Linked DNA regions of Homo sapiens: region 2 is linked to region 1. Evidence: fine-mapped expression QTL. A gene starts in region 1. The other region holds a variant in brackets. All regions are shown on one strand. Distances are from middle to middle. Region 1 holds the start of SMYD2 (SET and MYND domain containing 2). Region 2 overlaps SMYD2 (SET and MYND domain containing 2).

Evidence for each region. PIP is the estimated chance that this variant, and not a neighbour inherited with it, causes the effect.
Region 2: its variant is fine-mapped to the expression of SMYD2 in aorta (GTEx, PIP above 0.99).

The regions. Positions count from the first base shown.
Region 1 is chr1:214,274,824-214,285,459 of GRCh38, reverse strand. SMYD2 (SET and MYND domain containing 2) reads right to left here and starts at 4,301. Exons shown (of 12, transcript NM_020197.3): 1 at 4,033-4,301. The coding sequence starts at 4,205. It overlaps LOC124904509 (a long non-coding RNA gene), which reads left to right and starts at 4,424. Exons shown (of 2, transcript XR_007066876.1): 1 at 4,424-6,746. RefSeq lists silencers at 3,882-4,041, 4,072-4,191, 4,212-4,501 and an enhancer at 4,781-5,346.
Region 2 is chr1:214,322,860-214,334,745 of GRCh38, reverse strand. It overlaps SMYD2 (SET and MYND domain containing 2), which reads right to left. Exons shown (of 12, transcript NM_020197.3): 6 at 10,038-10,105; 7 at 7,022-7,124; 8 at 4,468-4,578; 9 at 3,676-3,796; 10 at 2,554-2,728; 11 at 438-546. Among named protein-coding and RNA genes, the nearest start is that of SMYD2, 48 kb to the right of the region's middle. RefSeq lists an enhancer at 5,590-5,679 and a silencer at 5,606-5,900. The variant A/C (reference allele first, on the strand shown) is at 4,600.

The sequences.
Region 1 (10,636 bases):
AGCCATTTCTCCCCCAAAACAACTCTCAAAGCATTCTCAGGAGAGCCAGAGTCATAGCAGTCCTGGGCACAAGGTCCCCTTCTCATGCACAGCTTCAGGCAGCCAGAACCAGGGCTAGTTCAGAGAACTTCAGGAAAACAGCATCAGGATTTCATGGCCCTTAATACTGATTAAGATCAACTAAAAATTATTCTGCCGGTTTGATAAAACAAGAGGAAAGCTAAGATGAATACGCTAGAGAATAAATCTGGGGGACATGAGGAAAAAAAGCCTTTATAACTGCTGAAATAGGACACCTTAATCACAGGGTTTGGCTCAGGCAAACAATTTAATTTTTAAAACAACTAATCTAAGCCAGACATGACCGAAATTCACTGAAACTGGGTTCTAACAGCTCTATTCCAAGGAGGCTAAATGGGCTTTCCTGGTTCCCCCTACACTCAGAACAAACAAAGAAATGTCAATAATCTCATCCTTAAATAACCCATGAGCCAAGAGAACTAAAGATCAAAAGGGAGACTAAAGATCAAAAGATCTGCCTACCTGAAGAATGGCACATAGAATGAATATTTAGATGGAACACTGGGTTAAAGCAGATTTCTCTCCTTCTGAGACAAATCACATTGGGGGTTAAAATATGTCTAGGCCAGGCACGGTGGCTCACGCCTGTAATCCTAGCACTTTGAGAGGCTGAGGTGGGTGGATCACTTGAGGTCAGGAGTTCGAGACCAGCCTGGCCAACATGATGAAACCCTGTCTCTACTAAAAATACAAAAATTAGTCGGAAATCACTTGAACCCGGGAGGCGGAGGTTGCAGTGAGCCAAGATCGTGCCACTGCACTCCAGCCTGGGCAACAGAGTGAGACGAGACTGTTTCAAAAAAAAAAAAAAGTCTAAAACTTAGTTTAAAATACAACATACTTGGCCCGGCGCAGTGGCTCATGCCTGTAATCCCAGCACTTTGGGAGGCCGGGAGTTTGAGACCAGCCTGACCAACATGGAGAAACCCTGTCTCTACTAAAAATACAAAATTAGCCAGGTGTGGTGACGCATTCCTGTAATCCCAGCTACTCGGGAGGCTGAGGCAGAGGAATTGCTTGAACCGGGGAGGTGGAGGTTGTGGTGAGCTGAGATCACGCCACTGCACTCCAGCCTGGGCAACAAGAGCGAAACTCTGTCTCAAAAAAAAAAAAAAAAAAAAAAACCACACCAAAAAATGGTGATAAATGGCCAAAATGTGTATGTGTGCATTTATGTGTGTATGTGTGTATAAAGTGTATCTGAGAAGTCTGATAGGGACAGCTTCCAAGTGGAAAAACTTTATATAATATTATTAGGAGCTGCCTTCTAGCAGTTCAGGCAAGATACGCATGTTCTCCAATGGCACCCACCAGACTGAGAAATGTGATACAAATTAAAAATTCCCCAAAGCAAACCTTTGTCTGAATTGCCCTGACCGTAAGAATCCCATTCTGTTGAGACTTAAGACATTTTCCATTATTTCTCAATTTATAGCATATACTTATTCCTACCTAAAGAAATCACTTTTCTTTTCTTCAAAAAAAGTTAGATCCTGATACAATTAGTATGACATGGAAATTCTTGGGTCATTCATTTATCTTAAGCAGTATTGTTTATGTTAAACTTCTGGCAAAAGAAAGGATAAGGGGTAGCTTTCTTTTGGGTGTGTGGAGCTGGGGCAGGCAGCAGATTTTGACCTGTAAGTATGAACATTTCCAGAATTCTACTCCTATACTTTGAGGCCCTATGGAGGAAAATACACGTTCCCCTCATACATCTGGACAGACTGATTTGTCCTAAGTCATATACAAATTGCTGACAGAGGAACTGATGCTGAATCTATCAGATGACCTAACCACTAATAGTAAATGATTCAGATTTAATAGAAATCATGAAGTAGGGTACAAGGATATTTCTAATTGCATAAGTATCATGGATATTATTTCTTTTGTATTATTTTAATTGACTTCAAATAATTCTTTGGGGAGAGAGAGGAAATAAACTACGGGTATTGACATAAGGTCAGGGAAATCAAACAGAGAAGTGGTTTGCAAGTTGTAATAACACCCCATTGCAAGTTGCAGCCCTGGTGAGGGACCCAAGGCAACAGTGAGTAACACTAATAAATGTCAATCAGAAAAATTTAACAACAAAAGAGGCAGCAAACTGTCACATATGGCAGAATAATCCAGGCTGAATGCTTTGTGAACTTGCATCTGACCATCCATTAATGTTCTAAGGTTGGGGGTATGCGTAGTAGATACAATTAGGAGACTTAAAGCTAAAGAGAAGCATCTCTCAGTTCTTCTCATCCCTTCTAAATCCAGAGGGATTTGATCTTTCATTCACTGGGGGCCAGGGCTGGCAACTACCCATATAAAGTAAGCACCTACTATGTGCCTGGCATCCATGGTCTTAGGCGATGGCTTCCAGGAATTGCCAGGATCCCTGATGGAGGCTCCTTCTGTGCTGCCTGACCTGCTTTGCTCCTGCCACTGCAGACACCCACGCTGCTGCAGACTCCGAGCCACAGCAAGGCTCAGAAGATCAAGGGACCAGTCACAGCAGCCTTTTTAACTTTGGGAAAACCCAATGCTCACTTCACTCAAACGTTGCAAAGTGGTGCCATGACCCTTTAGCTCTTGGCTCACCAATTCAAAGAGCCACATCACATACAGCCCTTAAGCTGCCCACGGCATGATTCCGTGTCTAGTTCCTTTCCAGGTCCCCCCAAGCGGAAGACAGTTCTGGCAGGGAGTCTGGGCAAGATTACTACAATATTTAGCCTTTGTCCCTTCTTTTGCTACGTCTTATTGTAGAATGAGGCACACAGGTCTGAGAGATTGAGTATGCTGGACTTGAGACCTGTACTCAAAAGGTCCCTGCAGGACCGCAGGTCAGCTTAATCCAGCCCAGGAATCTCCATTTCAAAGATGAAGAAACTGAGGTTCAAAGAAAGCAAATCATGGTCTCTACTCAGAGTACTGGAAGGCCTGATATAAACTTAACCCCAATGCCATGCCTCCTGCCTTAGTAAATTTACTGAGCACCTAACCAGTGAGAAATAGGCAGAAGTGAATAAGGCCAGATTTCACTCCCTTCACTACTGGTGTGAATGGATAAAGGTAACTCCACTTTCTCTCTGGGCTTTAGTTTTCTCATCCATTAAGTGAAAGACAAGACTGAATTGGTGATTTCTAATGTGCCTTTAAGCTCTGAAACTCTCATAAGAGTTGAGGATATAATTATGTGTTGGTGTGTGCAAATGTATATGCATCATATATACAAACACAGACACATATATACATATGGTATCTTACAATTAAATACCATTAGCAACCACACATCTTGCCCAATCCCTTCCTGCGACCATGTTTTCCTAATCCCAAACCGAAACTGGACACTGCAACTCATCGTCGCAGCACCTCAGAATCCAGGGGGTGTGGTCAGTGCCCACTGGCGTCCCTCCAAACACCCATGTAAGCGTACTTTAACATGTAAGCGTACTTTACAAGACATATACTAAGTCATTAAATTCCTTGGAAGAAACGGCCAATCTGAGGCAGGGCTGGACTGTGGGTAACAGAACACACCGCAGGAAGCATAAGTTAAAGGTGACAGCCCGTGGCTGCCCAAATTTGGGGCTCCGCTGCCAATGCACCGGGAGGGCAGTGAGTGCCCAGGCTTGGAACAAGCCTGGCTCGGAGCCCACATTTGAGGGCAGGAACCTGCACGCCCGGGTTTGCGCATCCAGCGTGAGCAACTCTGAAAACGTGCAGTGCAGGGCGTGCAGCGGGGCACCGGTCCTGTTTCCTCTCGCACGTGGCGCCTGGCGTGGGGCTGCAGCGCGGGGCCGCAGCGCGGGGCCTCCTCCCCTCCCCGCCCCCCACCCCGCCCCAAGGGCCGGCGCTAGGACCCCGCGAGCCGCACGCACTTCCTGGCGCCGCCGTCCAAGCCTCCCGCTCGGCGCCCCCGGCTCCCGCCCGCCGCCGCCGCCGCCGCCGCCCTACCTGGTGAAGCAGTACTCGCAGTGGTTGCCCCGCTCGTTGACCGTGAGCACGTAGGCATAGGCCGGGCAGGAGAACAGCAAGTCCCCCACCTGGAAGGGCTGCAGAGCCCGCAGCCCCCGGCCTTTGCCCGGGCTGCAGAAGCGCTCCAGGCCGCCGAGGCCCTCGGCCCTCATGGTGGCGGCGGGGCGCGGCCGCCGGCTGTGCCCGAGCTGCGGCTCCCGGCGAGCTGTTATTGGAGACGCGTCACCTAGAGCTGCGGGGGGCGGGGTGGGAGCCGCCCGGCGGACGCGGCGGCGGCTCCCCGCTCCCCGGAAGGGAGGGCGGCCCCGCCCGGGCCTCGCGCGCCCCCGCGGGGAGGGGGACGGGCCCGGCGGCCCCGCCTAGCGCCGCGACCCTCGGCGGCCGCCCCGCGCGCGCTCCGGGCCGTTTCCGGTGTGGCCGCGACAAAGAGCCGCAGCCCCTGTGGCTTCTGCGAGGAGGCGTGAGGCGTGTGCGCCTCCGCGGCGTCTCCACGGAGCGAGCGGGACGCGCCCTCCTCCTCGGTGGGAGGGAGGGGGGTCACCTGCGGGGACCAGGTATCCGAGGGCCACCCCTAGACAGTCAGCCTGGCCCGAAGGATGACCAGCCCCCGGTAAATAGAAGGGGGCGAAGCCAGCTCCGAAACCTTACGTTCGCTGTCCCTTGTAAAGACCCTAGAGGCAGTGATCGGGGAACGCCAAGGAGAAAGCGGCAGAGGGGAAACCACAGTAGAGAAGTTTGGTGTGCAGAGGGTTGAAGTGTGCTTTTCCAAGGTTAGAGGTTTTTAAACCTTGTGGCTTTAATGGGAACGTAGTTTGCCCTCTGCTCCTCTAGTGGAATTACATGGACGGAAGAGGAAATGCATTGGCCGGCCCAGCTCACCGAGTCTCTGAGGCATGCTGCGAACGTTGCAGAGGAAGCCAGAGAGAACCTTGCCTTCAAGGAATTTAGGCTGTTGGGGGATAATGCGATGCTGTGGCCAGTGTCCAGGACACTGCGCTAGAGTTTGCAGTAGTTTTAATATGCTTGACCACCCACGAACTGTGATCTTAGAAAAGTCACTTGGGTTAGGAGTCAAAGGATTTAAAGCCCACAAAGCCTGAAACGTAAATCCTATACACATGCACGCTATTACTTTTCATATGAGAAAGGAAAATATAATCCGTGTTCCACATGATTATGTAAAGACTGGAATTGATGTACATGCAGTAAAGACTAAAATTGTGACGAGATCATTTAGCAGAAACCACTACTTCAAAATAGGACCTCAAACAGTTACCTGTGTAAGTTCAGGACTGGTTGAGCAAAGGGAAAGGATTAATATGATTGGAGATGTAAAATCAGTGGAATTTTTGGCATTTCAGTAAAATGTCTTTATCAGCTGGGTGTGGTGGCTCAGCCCTGTAATCCCAACACTGTGGGAGGCCAAGGTGGGAGGATCATTTGAGCCCAGGAATTGGAGAGTTGGAGACCAGCTTGGGCAACATAAAGACCCCGTCTCTATGGGAAATTAACCACCTCTCAAGTGGTGCTGAGGTGGGAGGATAGCTTGAGCCTGGGAAGTCAAGGTTGCAGTGAGCTGTGGTGACTCCATTATACTCCAGCCTGGGTGACAGAGCAGGACCTTGTCTCAAAAGAAAACAAAAAAGCCCTTATTAGTGGCAAACTAAATAAGCCTCTAACCCGTCTTCAAGTAAAGGAAGTTATGATAGTATTTTCATTTATGCATTTTAAGAAACTTCGACTGACTATGGCCAGCAACTGGGATAGAAAGATGGACATCAGCCGGCTGTGGTGGCTCACGCCTGTAATCCCAGCACTTTGGGAGGCCGAGGTAGGCGGATCACCTGAGGTCGAGAGTTCAAGACCAGCCTGACCAACATGGAGAAACCTCATCTCTACTAAAAATACAAAATTAGCCAGGTGTGGTGGTGCATGCCTGTAATCCCAGCTACTCGGGAGGCTGAGGCAGGAGAATCGCTTGAACCTGGGAGGTGGAGGTTGCTGTGAGCCAAAATCGCACCATTGCACTCCAGCCTGCGCAAGAAGAGCGAAACTCTGTCTCAAAAAAAAAAAAAAAAAAAAAGTGGACAAAATGTAGTCCTAGGTCCTTGCATTTGGCACATTCAAGTTTGATAATACCATTAGTTATTGAGTATTGTTGACCAGGCATCGTGCTCCATCATTAAACACATTATCTGGTTTATCTTTACAACAGGCTAATGAGTTAGGTATTATGCCCCTCATTGCCAAAATTAGGAAGGAAACTAAGACCCAGAAGGAATGATTTTCAAGGCCACACAATAAATTGCAGAATTTGGTTTCCAAGTCAGTCTGAATTCAAGGTCCATGTTCCTAACCACAGTGTTTTGCTGCAAACAAACACAGTTCACTGGGATAAGTGCAGTTATGGTGGCTTGTACAAAATGTTCTGTGGTAGTACAGGCAGGGAGTGACAGCTTTAGCCTGCTAAACAGTCAAGACAGGCATCACATTCAAGTAACGTTAGAGCTGAGCCTGAAGGATGGACAGGATTTTGCAAGTGGAGGTGGGGAGAAGAGTTTTCTGGGCAGAGAGAACTGCGTACAAAGACAGAAGACCCTGAAAGCACAGAGCTTGTAGTTGGGGGCCCCTGAGCATCTGGAAGAGAGGACAGGAAATGAGGCAGGAACAGCTGAAGAGCATCTTCTCCAGAGGTGAGTTCTGCCCCAGAGGCCATGGGAGAGCCAGTTAAAGCGTTTAAGTGAGGGGTGGCACATTGAGTCCAGTGTTTTAGACTGATCTGCCAGCAGCATTGTGGGTTGGCTGGGGTGCCAACATTCAGCACTTCATAACTGTTTACATGTATATAAACAGCCTTGGCATGTGAGACCACTGACAGTTTGCATTTGTCTGTGTGATGACCTGATTAGTGTTTACATCCTCCACCAGACTGTACAAGCTCCATGAGGGCAGGGAATGAGTCTGTTTTTGTTACCCTTACATCACCAGCTCTTATCACTACTCCTGGAACACAGAGAGAATGGAAAAAATATTTAAAGGTTGAATAAACGTCATGGAATCTCATTCTGATTTCTGGGGGCTCTAACCAGCAAAAAGATGAAAAGACTGACGTAGAAGTAAACAATTACAATACAGTAGACAGTTTACTGTTTCAATGATTAATTGTGCAAAGTAATCTACCTGTTTACTTTTTTTATTGCAAGTAACTTTTTCCACTTTAATTGGGAAAGATTTCCACAGCTGAGAAAAAAGCAATTACATAGCTACCGAATTATCTTTCCAGATGAGTGCTGGCTTATTCTTGAGGGTGGAGGTGACTGTGATTTGAGAACACTGGAAAAGAAACCGCCTCATTTCAGAAAAATCCCTGTGATGAACTTAAATGACTCGAGATGGGGAAATGGTCACTGAAGCAGTAGCCATGAATTTAGGAGCTTAAATTACTAAGAAAACTGTGTTTAAAATAAACAGCCAAAGAATGGCAATAAACCAGCCCGGGGAGACTGATGACAGCGCTCTTCATGAAGCCCATACTTGTCACTCTGCCACTCTGTAATCTCACATTCCGTGAAGTCTTTGAGCAGCCAGGACCCATCCACTTTTCCTACGCCCTCTGCTCCATAACGTAGGAGGTATGGAATTTGAAAGGAGTGTTTTTGGTTACTTTGCCTCACTGAAACTCAGGAGAAGTGGTACAAGGACGAAAACTCCTTTGCTTAATTTCTCTAACCTAGAAGTTGATCTAATTTATGAGTAAAAGATCCTTCCAACCACAGATTAGCACATGAAAGAAATAGCTCTGGCCTAGGGAAATGAAGCCTTAGCAAAGAAGGTATCCCAGTGAACGTGAGCAAAGGGCCTAGATGCTGTATAGTTCTGCATCTATGTCTACATGTCACTTATTGAGGACATACTATGTACTTACACTGTGATAGATCCTAGTCATACCAAGGTGTAAAGACCAACATACATGAAAACAGTTATGAAGTGCTGAATGTTGGCACTCATAGATATTAGGTTCCAATCCCTGGAATCTATAAATGGCTTCAAAGGGTCTTGCAAATGTGTTTTAAGGATCTTGAGAGAGTGAGAGTATCCTGGAACATCCAGGTGGGTTCTCTGTGCAGTTGCAAGTTTTCTGATGAAGGACAGAAGGAAATTTGACACAGACAGGAGAGGAGGCAGCAATGTGACTATGGAGGCAGTGATGAGAGGGATACAGTGATGGGCTAAGGAATGCTGGCAGCCACCAGAGCTGGAAGAGGCAAGGAACACCTTTCCCCTAGAGCCTCGGGAGGGAGTGTGGCTTTGCCAATACCCTCACTTCAGCCTGTTAATCTAATTTCAGACTTCTGGCCTCTAGAACTATGAGAGAATAAATTTCTGTTGTTTTAAGACACCTGTTTTGTGGTAATTTGTCATAGCAGCCACAGGGAGCTAATAAAATAATCCAATAAAATTTTAATAGGGAGCTGAACAAAGTGCAGTAGGAAGGCTTCACAGAGAACCTGACATTTTAGCTTCTAGAAGGAAGAGGAAAGATTGACCAAGGGAAAGCAAAGTTCCCAAAATGGGCTTAAGACTAACAGTGCAGAGCTGGGCATGGTGGCTCATGCCTGTAATCCCAGCAGTTTAGGAGGCTGAGGTAGGTGGATCACTCGAGCCCAAGAGTTTGAGACCAACCTTGGCAATGTGATGAAACCCCATCTCTACAACAAGAGCAACACATTAGCTGGGCGTGGTGGCATGCACCTGTAGTCCCAGCTAATCAGGAGGCTGAGGAAGGAGGATCGCCTGAGCCTGGGAGGCAGAGGTTTCAGTGAGCTTTGATCATGCCACTGCACTCCAGCCTGGGCAATGGAGCTAAGCCTTGTCTCAAAAATAAAAAAAATAGGCTGGGAATGGTGGCTCACACGTGTAATCTCCGCACTTGGGGAGGCTGAGGCCGGTGGATCACAAGGTCAGGAGACTGAGACCATCCTGGCCAACACGGTGAAATCCCGTCACTACTAAAAATGCAAAAAATTAGCCAGGTGTGGTGGTGTGTGCCTGTAATCCCAGCCACTTGGGAGGCTGAGGCAGGAGAATACCTTGAAACCGGGAGGTGGAGGTTGCAGTGAGCCCAGATTGTGCTATTGCACTCCAGCCTAGCCACAGAGTGAGACTGTCTCAATAAATAAATAAATAATAAAGACCACAGTTGAAATTCACTGGGGTAGGAGAGACTTTGACAGTCCAATGGACAATTTTTCTTGGACTTAACGAATGTTTCCATAGCTCTCACTATGTACCAGGTGTACCTTTAAAATATATTCTCATATAATCCTTCTAATGACATTCCACAGAGGAGAATACCAAATTGAGAGGTGAAGCTAGCTGGACTTCCTGGGTCGAGTGGGGGCTTGGAGAACTTTTCTGTCTAGCTAGAGGATTGTAAATGCACCAGTCAGGACTCTGTAAAAACACACCAATCAGTGCTCTGTGTCTAGCTAGAGGATTGTAAATGCACCAATCAGCACTCTGTAAAAACGCACCAGTCAGTGCTCTGTGTCTAGCTAAAGGATTGTAAATGCAACAATCAGCACTCTGTGTCTAGCTAAAGGATTGTAAGTATACCAGTCAGCACTCTGTAAAATGGACCAATCAGCTTTCTGTAAAATGGACCGATCAGCAGGATGTGGGCGGGGCCAAATAAGGGAATAAAAGCTGGCCACCCAGGCCAGCAGTGGCAACCCGCTCGGGTCCCCTTCCACACTGTGGAAGCTTTGTTCTTTTGCGCTTCACAATAAATCTTGCTGCTCCTGACTCTGGATGTGCACTACCTTTATGAGCTGTAACACTCACTGCAAGGGTCTGCGGCTTCATTCCTGAAGTCAGCGAGACCATGAACCCACCAGGAGGAACAAACAACTCCGGACGCGCCACCTTTAAGAGCTGTAACACTGACTGCGAAGGTCTGTGGCTTCACCCCTGAAGTCAGCGAGACCATGCACCTACCCCAGGAAGAAACTCCAGACACATCTGAACATCTGAAGGAACAAACTCCGGACACACCATCTTTAAGAACTGTAACACTCATGGCGAGGGTCTGCAGCTTCATTCTTGAAGTCAGCGAGACCAAGAACCCACCGGAAGGAATAAATTCCAGACACAGAATCACAGAAGTGACATGTATGAACAAGCTGTCTAGCAGTGAGTCCAGGCTCAGAACCACTCCACCATGCTGCCTCTCTGTTCAGCCAGAGCTACAGCTTTCCTTAGAGTACTTGGGATGAAGGTGGATGGGCAGGAGTGGGCCCCATCATGAAACCCATGAGCCTAGGAGCTAGACGGCACTGTGTAGGCACGTGAGTCAGAAGAATTTTGGCTGACATGATCCGAGTTTTGCTGTAGAAAGTTCATTTTTTAGCTAAATAGAGAATACACTAGAAGGGGCTGAGGAGACAGAGGGAACTGAGGCGCCTGATGCAATAAAGGGTCCAGAGGAGAGATGTTACTGGAATGAACAAGGGCAGTGACGGTGGCAATGGGAAGGAGGGACATGGATTTGAAGAACTTTTAATTAACAGGACACGGTAATTGG
Region 2 (11,886 bases), 49 kb before region 1:
AACTGGTCCTCAATGAACTGAGAGGATGATTAAGTGCATTTTAGAAACAGCAAATGCGCAATTCTAACATCCTAACCCTAACTCTCCATATCCTACCTCCTTGATTTCACAACTGGGGATCATCATTCTGAAAATCCCAAAGGTCAAACAAATGGAGAATTCCTCCAGGCACAGGCTGGGCCTGTGATCACGGCCAGCCCTCTGGATGTGGGCACCCATTCCCTTTGAGGGAGGCCTGGACACAAACACAGCAGAGGTGCACTCTCTCACTCCCCCCTCACCTGCAGGACCCACCCCCGCTGCTCCCACGGCAAGAGGGTGGGTGAGAGCTGCTCACCCTCCACTGCTTCAGCCATTCAGCCTGGTGAGGCATGAAGGAGGTGCGCTAAGGAGGCCATCTGGCCACTGGGAATCCTAAGGCCGAGTTACAGACATACCTTCTTCAGGGCTTTCTCCCCTGCGGCTTTGTGTTCCAGGCCCATGTAGAGTCTCCCTAGCTTCAACCACATGGAGGCCACGTTGAGGGAGTACAAAGGATAGTGCTTACTAGAACAAGAGAAGAGACAACAGGCCACCATGTCAGCGGCTACTGAGCCGCCCCACAGGCTGGGTGCAGTAAGCCGGAGGCTGCCATGCTTAGGGCCAACCTCTGCCCACCAGCGGCCTCTCCAAATCCCACCAGGGTTTGGGTGGAGAGCGTGGATGCTGCCACCCTGCCGAATCATTGCAGATGTTGTTCATTATTTGTAGTTTGTGTGTTTCTGAAAAGCTACGTAACAACTGCAGGAGAAATCCTATTCAAAAGCATTTGTAAACACAATCTTCAATCCCAGTCCAGATTTTTATATTTCAGACATACCCAGAGGAAGACCCTGGGAAAACAGCTTGTGAAGTAAATGTCCCATTTATGAAGGCAGCAATTAGGCCTATCACCTTAGGTACTCAGACATACAGCCACCCACCCAACCCCCACCCACCCCAATGTGTCTTAAGACCCCAGCTTTCTGTCACACTATGATATGGGTTGGTTTAGCAAAACAGTTAAGTGCTCTGAAGTCAGAACACTTCCTGTGTCTTCTGGATGTTCTTTCCCCATTGTCCAGCAGGGGCTTTAGATACAGCAAGTGTTCTCTCCGGCTGTACCTGAAGACTGACTGATGGGGTCTGCCTGGGAAACAGCCATTTCCCTAAGAACAGGGCCCAGAGGCAGCTGGTGGGTGAGCCAGTGTGTGTGTTTACATGTGTGTAAGAGGTGTTTATTTAAAGGCTAGGCTGTTCCACCCTGTGTCTCCTGAAAGTCAGTCCAAAAAGACATGTTCTAGCTGTATTCCTGGGTAGGAGGCAGCCCTGGGACCCACGGCCCCACAGAAGACCAGAGCTGGGCTTCCGGGAGGGGCTCACGCAGATAAAGATGGGTCTAGCAGAGCAAGGCCCTGCTGGGAGAACCACAGGGCTGGGATGCTGTCTGTCTGCTCCTCTCTCCCTACAGATCTCACACAGAGAACTGCGCATGAGGCCAGTGCACTTCCTCACACACTCTAGGAGAAAAGGAAGGTTTGAGTTTATCCCCAATTTAACAAATTCTGTTTCCAAGAGCAGATTTTAAGAGCTGGCTTCCTTTGGGCTCCCCCTGCTGGCTAATCAGGGCACAGTGGGGTAAGTAGAGGGTGGAGTGGGCAGTGGACATTCAGACCAGACACAACCTTCACAGACCCTAATCTCGGAAGTGGAAGGAGACTGAGGGCTTCTCAAACTCCTGAGAAACACCTGGGATGCTTCCAGAACACAGATTTCTGGGTCTAATGCCCAGCGACCCTGATTCACTTGGCCCACTTGGTGTTGGACGTACCCTGTAAATGCATAATATCAGTGCCTTTAAAAAGAGCTCCAGTGATCCCATCTAGGCCACCTCAGCCCTGAAGTGTCTAGTCCGAGTCAGAGGACAAAGCCACAACTTCCGTCTGTCACCCACTTTTAGGTTTAGTAACCCTCTCAGGCAGGAAATCTCTCCAGGGCTAATATTCATTATTACTACAAATTAAAAAGCAATTTTTGTTTCTTTTTTCCAAACCTGGGGTGGGGAGATTAGATAACCACGGTCAACCCACTGGTCCCAGAGCTTCCCCATTTGCAAACTGGGGCTGTAATTTGAAAAAGCAAAAGAAGGGGATGGTGTGAGTAATGATGAAAACCAGGGTTTCTGAGACCACCACTTAGTAATTAAACTTGGAAGCAGTGGGTGGGAAAAGAAGCAAACTAGTGGCTTCTCAAAACTAGCCTGAGTTAACTACTATGGATATGGCCCTGGATGGACCTGGGAGGGATCTTGCCCCAGTATCCGCTGCATAACCTCAACCTGTCTCCTTGGGATGATGGTGAGAACAGGCCTGACTCGGGAGCAGTGCCCTGCACCAGCACCTCCAGATGTGGGTGCAGAGAAGAGGCAGCTGCGCTAGGCAAGTCTCAGCAATGGGCAGGAAGATGACACTATCGTATACATTCTAAACAACCAAATTCCACTCCGTGGATGATTAGAACAGCCTCTGCAATCACCTGTAGGGCTTAATGATTTTCTGTCCATATTGCAGGGCTCCTTCCCAGTCCTGCATGTACAAGCAGACACCCATGGCCTGGTACATCATGTGCAACATGTACACGTTACTGTCCTCAAACACAGAGCTCATCTTCTCCTGGCTGAGCTCGCAGATCTCCAGCAGCTCACTAGGGGGTGCTGTGGAGTCAAGGAAAGGGCCACCGGGCCCAAGCTGCCTGGAGGCTTCCCCAGGCTGGGTTCAAGGAGTTATTTCGTCCACTCCACTCTCACCCTTACCCCATGAAAAAGTAACTTACAGAAAGCCAAGCAAAAGTGAAAGGAATTACATTTCTCCAGAAAAAACAAATGAAGAAAACCTGAAGGTCGGAACCGCTCAACTCAAGAATTTTAGCCGCAGGGTCCAGACCCCTAGTTCTGATGTAAACAATGTTGATTAAAATCACGATTCTAATCAAATTCAAATCCTCACCCAAGTTGGAACCCTGAGCACGACTCCCACTGTGGCAAAGTTCTTTCTTATGCTGAGAAACAATGTGCCTTTCTCTCATTTCCTCTCACTGGTTTTAAATTCTACCCTTTAGAGTACAAATCGAATCCCTTTTCAACTCCCAAGAAAATGCTACAATACAATGGTTAAGAATATGGATTCTGATAGAGCTGGGACAAAATCCTAGATCCTATCACCATCAGCTGTGTCCTTTGGGCAAATTACTTAATATCTATCAGGCTGTTTCCTCATCTGCTGCATGGGAATGAGCAGAGTCCCTGCTCAGAGTGTGCCAGTGAGGAGAGCTGAAATAAGCAAGGCCCTTGGCACTGTGCCCTGCCCAAAGTAAAATACCCAAAGCACAAGGCCATCAAGGCTCTGTCCTTCATGGTCCTCCACCACATGGGGCTCCCAGCCAAACTAGCCAAAATAAGGGGAAATAAAATCATACAACTCCAACAGGATGGACACCACATTGTGGGTGGTCAGTACGCCTTTACACATTTACTAGGAGACATTCCTCCTTTGGTTTTCAGAATCTTAAATCCATCCTTCTCCTGCTCCCTCTTTCCAACTTCCCACCTTGCCTTGTTGGCGAGGGATAATAAGCTATCAGGGCAGTTGTAAAGGATATATTTATAGTGCTTGGCCCTCCGGAACTCTTCAATGACGTTGCGTGCATATCTGACCATGTCTCGGATGGCTTCTGCCTTTGGGGGATCGCTGAGCTTCCGGATTTCCACCTTGGCCTTATCCTGAAGGAAACGTCCACAAGGGCAAGGCGTTACCGCCCATGGAAACCACACTGATAGGGAAACCTCTCATATAATACACATTCCCACACAGCGGTCGACACTGGCCCATTCCAAGGTTACAAAAGAATGAAAGGAAATCAGGCAATGCATCTGAAGAAATTCAGTACTCCATTACCTTTTTACAGAAACAAAACAAAAAGATTAATTTTCTAGATACTCCTTATCTAAAATGTGTTGGCTATGGGCAGATATATGTGTTTACACATCTACGAATCAAGAGACTAGAATAAGGAAGGATGGCATTGACGGAACAATTTGGAAAATGCCAGGGAAACTTCCACATATTCTGGTGAACAGGTTGGAAAGCCTAGAGATTATACTCATGTGCTTTTCCCCCCTCCTCCTTTGAGCAGTTGTTTCTTTTCAAGAAAGAGCAGTTCGGCAGACCTTTCTCCTGTTTGTACAGTGTAATGGAAATGTTTTCTTTAGCTACTAGGAGCAGGTCTGAACAGAGACCTGGTCTAACTAGATTCCCTTTGGCTGTCTTTGTAAGGAGGGTTTAAAGGGTCAAAAAGATCCTAGAGGAGATCCGCCAAGTCAGACAAGCTCTTCAGCAGAGAGGTCCTGAGATCAGAGTGCAGTCAGCGCTCTTGCCCAATGAACAACCTTACCTTGTCCTTGGTGGTACACTCCTGGCACTCACAGGTAAAGAAATAAGAATCTCTTAACCGGTCATTTCTATCTTCCGTTGGGTACAGGAGATCAATATAGCTGGTAAAAACCTACGGGGTCCAAAAAGATAA[A/C]GCTTCAGTCTGCTACAGGTAAACTCAATCCTTGTCATTCCCGTGCCTTTGCAGTCACCTGCAGGGCCCATGCAGAGGATAAGGCGGGCTGCAGCGGAGGAATGCGCTGTTTACTTTAAGGCACGGAATTCCTGAACTGAGCAGCCACCTGACGTTGGCTTTCTCTGGAAGGTGTTCACTAATCCACAGCTGAACTGGGAGCTGAAGCCAAGGTGCAGGTTAGTGGAAAGAGTCTGTAGAATCAAGGAGTCCTTAAAACAGTGTCCTGGAGGGTTCAGAGGATCCCTGCCTCCCTCAGCTGCCTCTGCCTGGCCTTCATGTAGTTTCATGTTTCACCACCTGAGACGGCGCAAATGCTTCGTTGCCGTCATCACTGGATGCTGCGTGCAGGGGAGGGCATGAGCACGCACACACCACACACATGCAGCTAAGCTCCCCTTCTCCTCACATCAACTGGCAATGGAGCAAGAGGCTCCACTCAGTGGGCTGGGACCCACAGCTCTGGGTGGCCAGCGGAGGGTGAACACATCTTCTAGGACACCAGAATGCTGCGGCCTGGCCCAGCGGGCAGCTCCTGATCCTGCAGGGCAGCGAGCTTGGAAAGTCCTTACCTTTGGTTCATGGGGCTCCACCGTCCTTGCCTTTTCCTAATGGGGTCTGTAACTAAGGCTTGGAGCATATGGAGGAGACCAGCATTTAGATGTCCATTATCTACTCACTGGGACAGCACTGGCTACTCATCCCACACAATCAGGCAAATGTCTGACTGAACAGATGGATCTCATGAAGCCGCTAGCGTGCCAGTGACCACGGGCACCACCAGGCAGGCAGGGGAGGACACGCACAGGGCTGGGTGCTGCAGGGGCAGCTAAGCTCTCCCCAGCCCATGGGGAGGTACTGGACACGTTGCAGCTCACCCCGAAACCCTGGGGAATGGGGTTTCTCCTTCTCTGAAGGGTAAGTAATCCCCAAAGCACTGACTTCCCAAAAATGAGGTTACTGCGTTTCAGATCTGGGAGAACATAAGGGCAAAAGGAAACTGCAGCCACCCCTGCCCTGCCTCACACCACAAGAGCCTGCCAACAATCTCTGTAATGACTGACTCACAGTGCAACATGCGGAAGCTTCCAGAAGATGGCGACAAAGGCCACTCCAGTACCACTGCTCCCAGCCAGACTGAGCCAGCTTAGGTGACAACCTGCTCATCTCTGCAGTCAGCCCACAGGTGCACTGGAGCCTGGGTGACTGCATTCTGACTGGCTGCAATTATCTGTTTCAAGAAAGGCTTCAGAGCAGTCTCCATAAGACCTTTGGAAACTCAGACACCCCAGCCGAAAGGGGACACACCCTCATCGTAATGGATTTAGCTGAAGGTAGAAGGGCCAACCTGCCTGCATCTTGGGCTTCAGCTCCCAGTGCAGCTGTGGATTAGTGAGTGCCTTCCAGAGAAAGCAAAGCACTTGTCATTCAGCACGCTGACAGTTATATTTTACACTTCACACTTCAAATACCCAGGCATGCACCGTAAAATAGCATTACAAATTGCTAAACTGAAATTAACCCAAGTGTGATTACAAGTTCCTAAAAACTCATGTGTCTTGCTGGGAATTTACTTAAGAACACAGAGCATACTACAGCAATCCATCAGGCCAGCCCTTCCCAGGTGAGACGTCTCATGAGGTAGTCAGGAATCACACATGGGAAGGGAACAGGGAATCGCTGAGCAGGTGATGGGAAGACTGGTTCTCTCCACGTCCTGAAGCTGAGGAGGGAAACTAAGGTGCCCCTTGGCCACAGACTGCCTTGACTTCTCCTATTACTGCATATACCTGGACTTTTGATTTAGATTCCTAAAAAGTGAACTGCGACCTGAAGTTCAGATGTGGAACTGATAGAACACGAAATTCTGATGTGTCCCTTGGAGTGCCAGCTCTTTAGCTACTGCTGCGTTGCTTGCTTTCTTTTGCTTTGGACCTTTGAGGGATGGTGGGGAACAAGCAAGAATTCACCAAAAAAAATAAAATAAAATAAGGCTCAAGCTCAGTTGTTTGGCAATAGGGATACAGAGACTCTAAAGATAATCAAAAGTTTGACTGTGGTCATTTTGGTAGTAAATGTCTTCTTTCTCTGTAAATCTCTATAAAGCTTTGGGACAAATTTGACTCAAATTTATTACTTCCTGTTTTTCTTGACCAGAGATGGAAATGTATGTACCAAACAGAAGCCCCAAAGTGTGGGAATCTAAACTACAGGTTACAAATCTGATCACTGACTCCTGGAGAGCCTGAGGGCAGACTCAGCTAAACTGCTGGAGGCATTCACAACTCATACTGTCAAGTGACACTGCACAGATCTGTCCACATTGCCTTTTAAAGAGCAGTCTCAAGCCCCCTGCTGCAGCCACCCATAGCCATGAACTCACCTCCTCTCCCGGCTTGATTTCCTGTACAGCTCTGACTTCTGCCAGGGTCCCTTTGTAGGTCACAATGACATTGGGGCAACAGCTATGATTCATCAATGCAACACTGTCAGTCAGAAGAGAAAACCCAGTTTTTAAAATGAGATAGGCAGACTGTTTAGCTTCCTTCACTACTTACTTGCTAAGTCAGAGGAACTGAATCTTTGCAAGACATTTTTTAAAAATCTAATAGTTGGCTATCACATTCTAAGAGGTTGTTCTGCATGCACTGATAATCCTATCTACCATCTCACACTTTCACCATATTAAAAACTGAAATCCACAATTCAAGTACTATCTAAGCCAAAACCAAAAAACACACAACAGCAAAAACAACAAATGCCACAAATATTCCTCCCTGATAGAATGCAGCTCTCAGAACCCAATACCCACAGCTAATTGCTACTTCACTATACACTGTCAAACACAGGTGCGTTGTCGCTTTCAAGCAGCTTTTTGTATTAGTGGATTATTTCTCACGTTTTTTTCAGATGTTGAGAAATGCCAGCTTCCTAAGGGAGGAAGGGTGTGTGATCCCCTGAGAGACCCGGAGACACCCGTCTGAGTTTCTCTGCACCTCAATTTCCTCATCTGGAAAATTGGGACATTACTGCTCCTGCTGCTCACTGTCTGCTTTTCAGGGACAGCGAGAAGGAGAGAGAGAGATTCGCCTATGCGAGGTGCTTTGAGCTTTCTGATTATATGAAGGTCAAAGTTCTGAGAACAGAAATTTCTAAACTACAGGGAAAAAGTGCTTGATCTCTGAAAATGCTGCCTTTGAAATCACAATGCTGATATGATTTCAGCCCAAAGGGATTTTTTCCCCCAATTAAAACTGCCCAGAAACTGGGGCTCATGCTCCTACGGGCACTCACAGCCATGTGTGTCATTGCTCTGGTGGCCAATGTCACCTCCCTGACCCTCCAGAGACCACAGCCCCTCTCCTGCTTGCTCCGAGAATACAAAAAGGGAAAGGGGTTTCGAAGCCTGATGAGGATGAACTGCCCCAGGCTGGCTATGGCCTATGGCCAAGTGCACTCCCCCACCTCCTGGCTGCTAAAGGCCTAAGCAAAGTATGTGGTTAGCCTGGTGCCTGAGATAAACAGGTAGCAGCTTCCTGGTCTTGACCTCGGGGAGGGCCACCTCTGCACTGCACCAAGGCCCACTTGGCTTCCTGGAAAGTGATGCCCAAGGAATCAGGTCCTAGGAAATCAAATAAACAAATGCATCGAAGGGTAGTTGTATTAAAATAAAAGCACATTTCTAAAACCATCTTGCGGAAGTATTAAATAGCTGAAGGCAGACTCGGGTATCTCTTTAATGAAGGTGGGGGAAATGCACTAAGTCAAAGACCCTAAAACAATTCATGTTCTTGGTATCATAATTCTGTTGGCAACCACTGACAGGTGAGAATCCTCAAAGCACCTCACTCTTTTTTTTTTTTTTTTTTTGAGATGGAGTCTCGGTTTGTTGTCCAGGCTGGAGTGCAGTGGCGCGATCTCAGCTCACTGCAACCTCCACCTCCCGGGTTCAAGTGATTCTGCTGCCTCAGCCTCCTGAGTAGCTGGGATTACAGGTGTGCGCCACCATGCCCAGCTAATTTTTGTATTTTTAGTAGAGACGGGGTTTCACCATGTTGGTCAGGCTGGTCTCCAACTCCTGACCTCGTGATCTGCCCGCTTCGGCCTCCCAAAGTGCTGGGATTATAGGTGTGAGCCACCACACCTGTAAGGCGTGCCCGGCAGCACCTTACTCTTAATCTTTTAGTCTTTTAAGATATTAAGAACAGAGACATTCCATAGTTCATTTCAGTTATAAAGGTGTCAATACACGCCTTCTTCAGTGGGTCCAATGCCCTCTTTTTCTCCTGCCTTTTCCCAGGGGCCAAAGTTAAAAAAAAAAAAAAAAAAAAAAAGCTTCTTTCCTCACTTCCAGAATTCCAACTGCAGATGATGCCATTTTGGCCCCAAGGACAAATATTACATGAACAAACTTTTTAGTCTCTCTGGTTCAAGTAAACCTGTGACAGCTGCTCACGAGACACAGACTGTACGGATTCTTCTCTTTCTGACCTACACAACGCACAGCGTCTGGCAGAGACGCACATAGCTAAGGGCAGGCACATCACTCAGGGCAAATGCATGAGTATTAAGGGTTTCCTACCTATGTGGCAACCTACAGGCAAAGGCCCCTGCAGTATATGTTAAGCAACCTCCCTCTGGATAGAACTTATCTACAATGTGGATTAATTTGGAGGCTGGGGGGATGCATGATGAATTCCTTGGCTCTATCTGTGAAGCAAGGGTTTGATTTCAGGGACTGAAGCATTTTGGAAATACTCACTCCATGAGACAGACAAAGGCAAAATCATTCTTGGCAATCCATTAAAGTCAGATCTATAAAGATCTCCATTTGTCAACTGGCTAGCCTTTGCTGAATTACTCAAGTATTCTTCAAATCCAGAGAAAATCCTACAGTTCTTTGAAATTTTTATCCGGCCCACTACTTCAGCATATTCTCCCTCCAAATTGTGCTGTTTCTGTACTGGTATTTATCAAAAAGGACAGATGGAGAAGAAGCTCATATAGTCTGTACTCAAGCTTGTGGCCAATTCTTGGTTGGCAATTAATGTTTCACTTTGAGCATAAGAAATGGAAAGATTTCCAGAACCACAGATAGGCAGAAAGCAAATTTCTCAGCAGGGCATGAGCTGTTCCTTCTATGCGCGCTATAAAATATTCTTTAATAACAGCTCTCTGCCTAGCAGGACTTAACAAGCAACTGTTCTCTTAACTACTACCTTTGGATCCTTAAGTGTAGGGGAAATATTTTGAAATCTGGCAGATTAAAAAGCTGTTTTAATTCACTTTGAGTTTCATGTCTGCCACATGCAGTTAGGTGGGTTATTTAAAAATGAAAAAAAAATCAAATTAGTGTTAAGTAAGTAAAAAGGAAAGAAATGAAGTCAAACACAGCCTACTCAGGAAATATCGCTGATCCCAAATGAGAAAGTTCTTCATCTTCAATTGTGAAGCCATTACAGTTAACCTGCAGCAAGAAAAAGGGAGAAAGGAAAAAAATGAGCTGGAGCTTCTTTCTGGGTAGAGATCATTTTTTTAAATTTTGACTTTTAACAAATTAGGAAGATGTTTTGGTGTAGTGGTTTTAAACCCTTTCTTTTGCCCATGTTATCGTTCAAACAAAATTTACTTATCAGTTCCATGCATAAACAAACAAGCAGAATTGTGATGCATCCCTTAGTGTAGCCTACCTACCATCTAAATACAGTGGTCCAGGCACGCCAAAGACCCCCAAGACTCTGAGGACTGACGTTTGCACACTTGCATGGGAGTTAAGATACCTGGAGTCTAATCTCAATTCTGCTACAGCTTTGTTGTATGATCTTAAGCCTATCACTGAATCACTGTGTCTTTAAAGAAAAGAATCAATCTGGCTGGGCGTGGTAGCTCACGCCTGTAATCTCAGCACTTTAGGAAGCTGAGGCGGGCAGATCACCTGAGGTCGGGAGTTCGAAACCAGCCTGACCAACATGGAGAAACCCCATCTCTACTAAAAAAAAATACAAATACAAAATTATCCAGGCGTGGTGGCGCATGCCTGTAATCCCAGCTACTTGGGAGGCTGAGGCAGGAGAATCATTTGAACCCAGGAGGCGGAGGCTGCAGTAAGCCAAGATTGTGCCATTGCACTCCAGCCTGGGCAACAACAGCGAAACTCTGTCTCAAAAAAAAGGAATCAATCCAATGCTCATCTCATAAGGTGAGGTGGTAAATATGAAGCCCTTATTCATCTAATCTAACTGCTATCCCTCTCTCTGTTAGGGAGGCAGAGGGATTGAGGGCTTAAAGCTAAGGCACTGAGACCTTGCCTTTCAAGTCTCAGCCAAATCACCTACAGGCCACCTTCTCACCCTTTAAAAGAAACGTTGTACGGGCCCGCTGGCTCACGCCTGTAATCCCAGCACTTTGGGAGTCCAAGGTGGGCAGATCACCTGAGGTCAGGAGTTCAAGACCAGTCTGGCCAACATGGTAAAACCCTGTCTCTACTAAAAATACAAAAATTAGCTGGATCTGGTGGCATGCACCTGTAATCCCAGCTGTTCCATCTACTCGGGAGGCTGAGGCAGGAAGATCACTTGAACCTGGGAGGTGGAGGTTGCAGTAAGCCGAGATTACACCACTGCACTCCAGCCTGGACGACAGTGTGAGACTCCATCTCAAAAAAAAAGAAATGTTGCATAGAAAAATACCAAGGGCAACTTTCACCATTCTGGAAGCCTAACTTAGAACAAGCAGGCTGAAAATGAGGACTATACATGCCTAACTTATGTACTGTTCTATAAACTCATTCTTTCCACAGATATGTACTGGGAGCCCTTACATGCTGGGCACCATGCACAGAAAAACAAACAGAAAGACAAACAGGCTGAAAATTTGTGGCCTCAAAGAAAATCAGACTATTAGGAGACAATTCGGTAGGTGATCTTCATGTCTCTAAAATTTCAGCACTGGAAGAAAACTAAGACTCTACTTTTTAGAGGACGAAACTGAAGTCAGAGAGGAACAATGATTTGTCCACAGTCACAAAGATACTTGGTGACAAAGGCTGAGACCCCTGCTTGTCCCACGCTGCTATGAAGTCTCTGTCCGTGAGGCACTCACACTGAACGATTCCACCCCACTCTCTTCTGCACTTGGGGACACTGCACTGTTACAATTCAGGCCAACAGATGGGCTTTGTAAAACTAGCATCCTCTGAGCACTCACTCTGGGCCAGGCACTGTGCTAGGTACTTCAGATTTACCATCC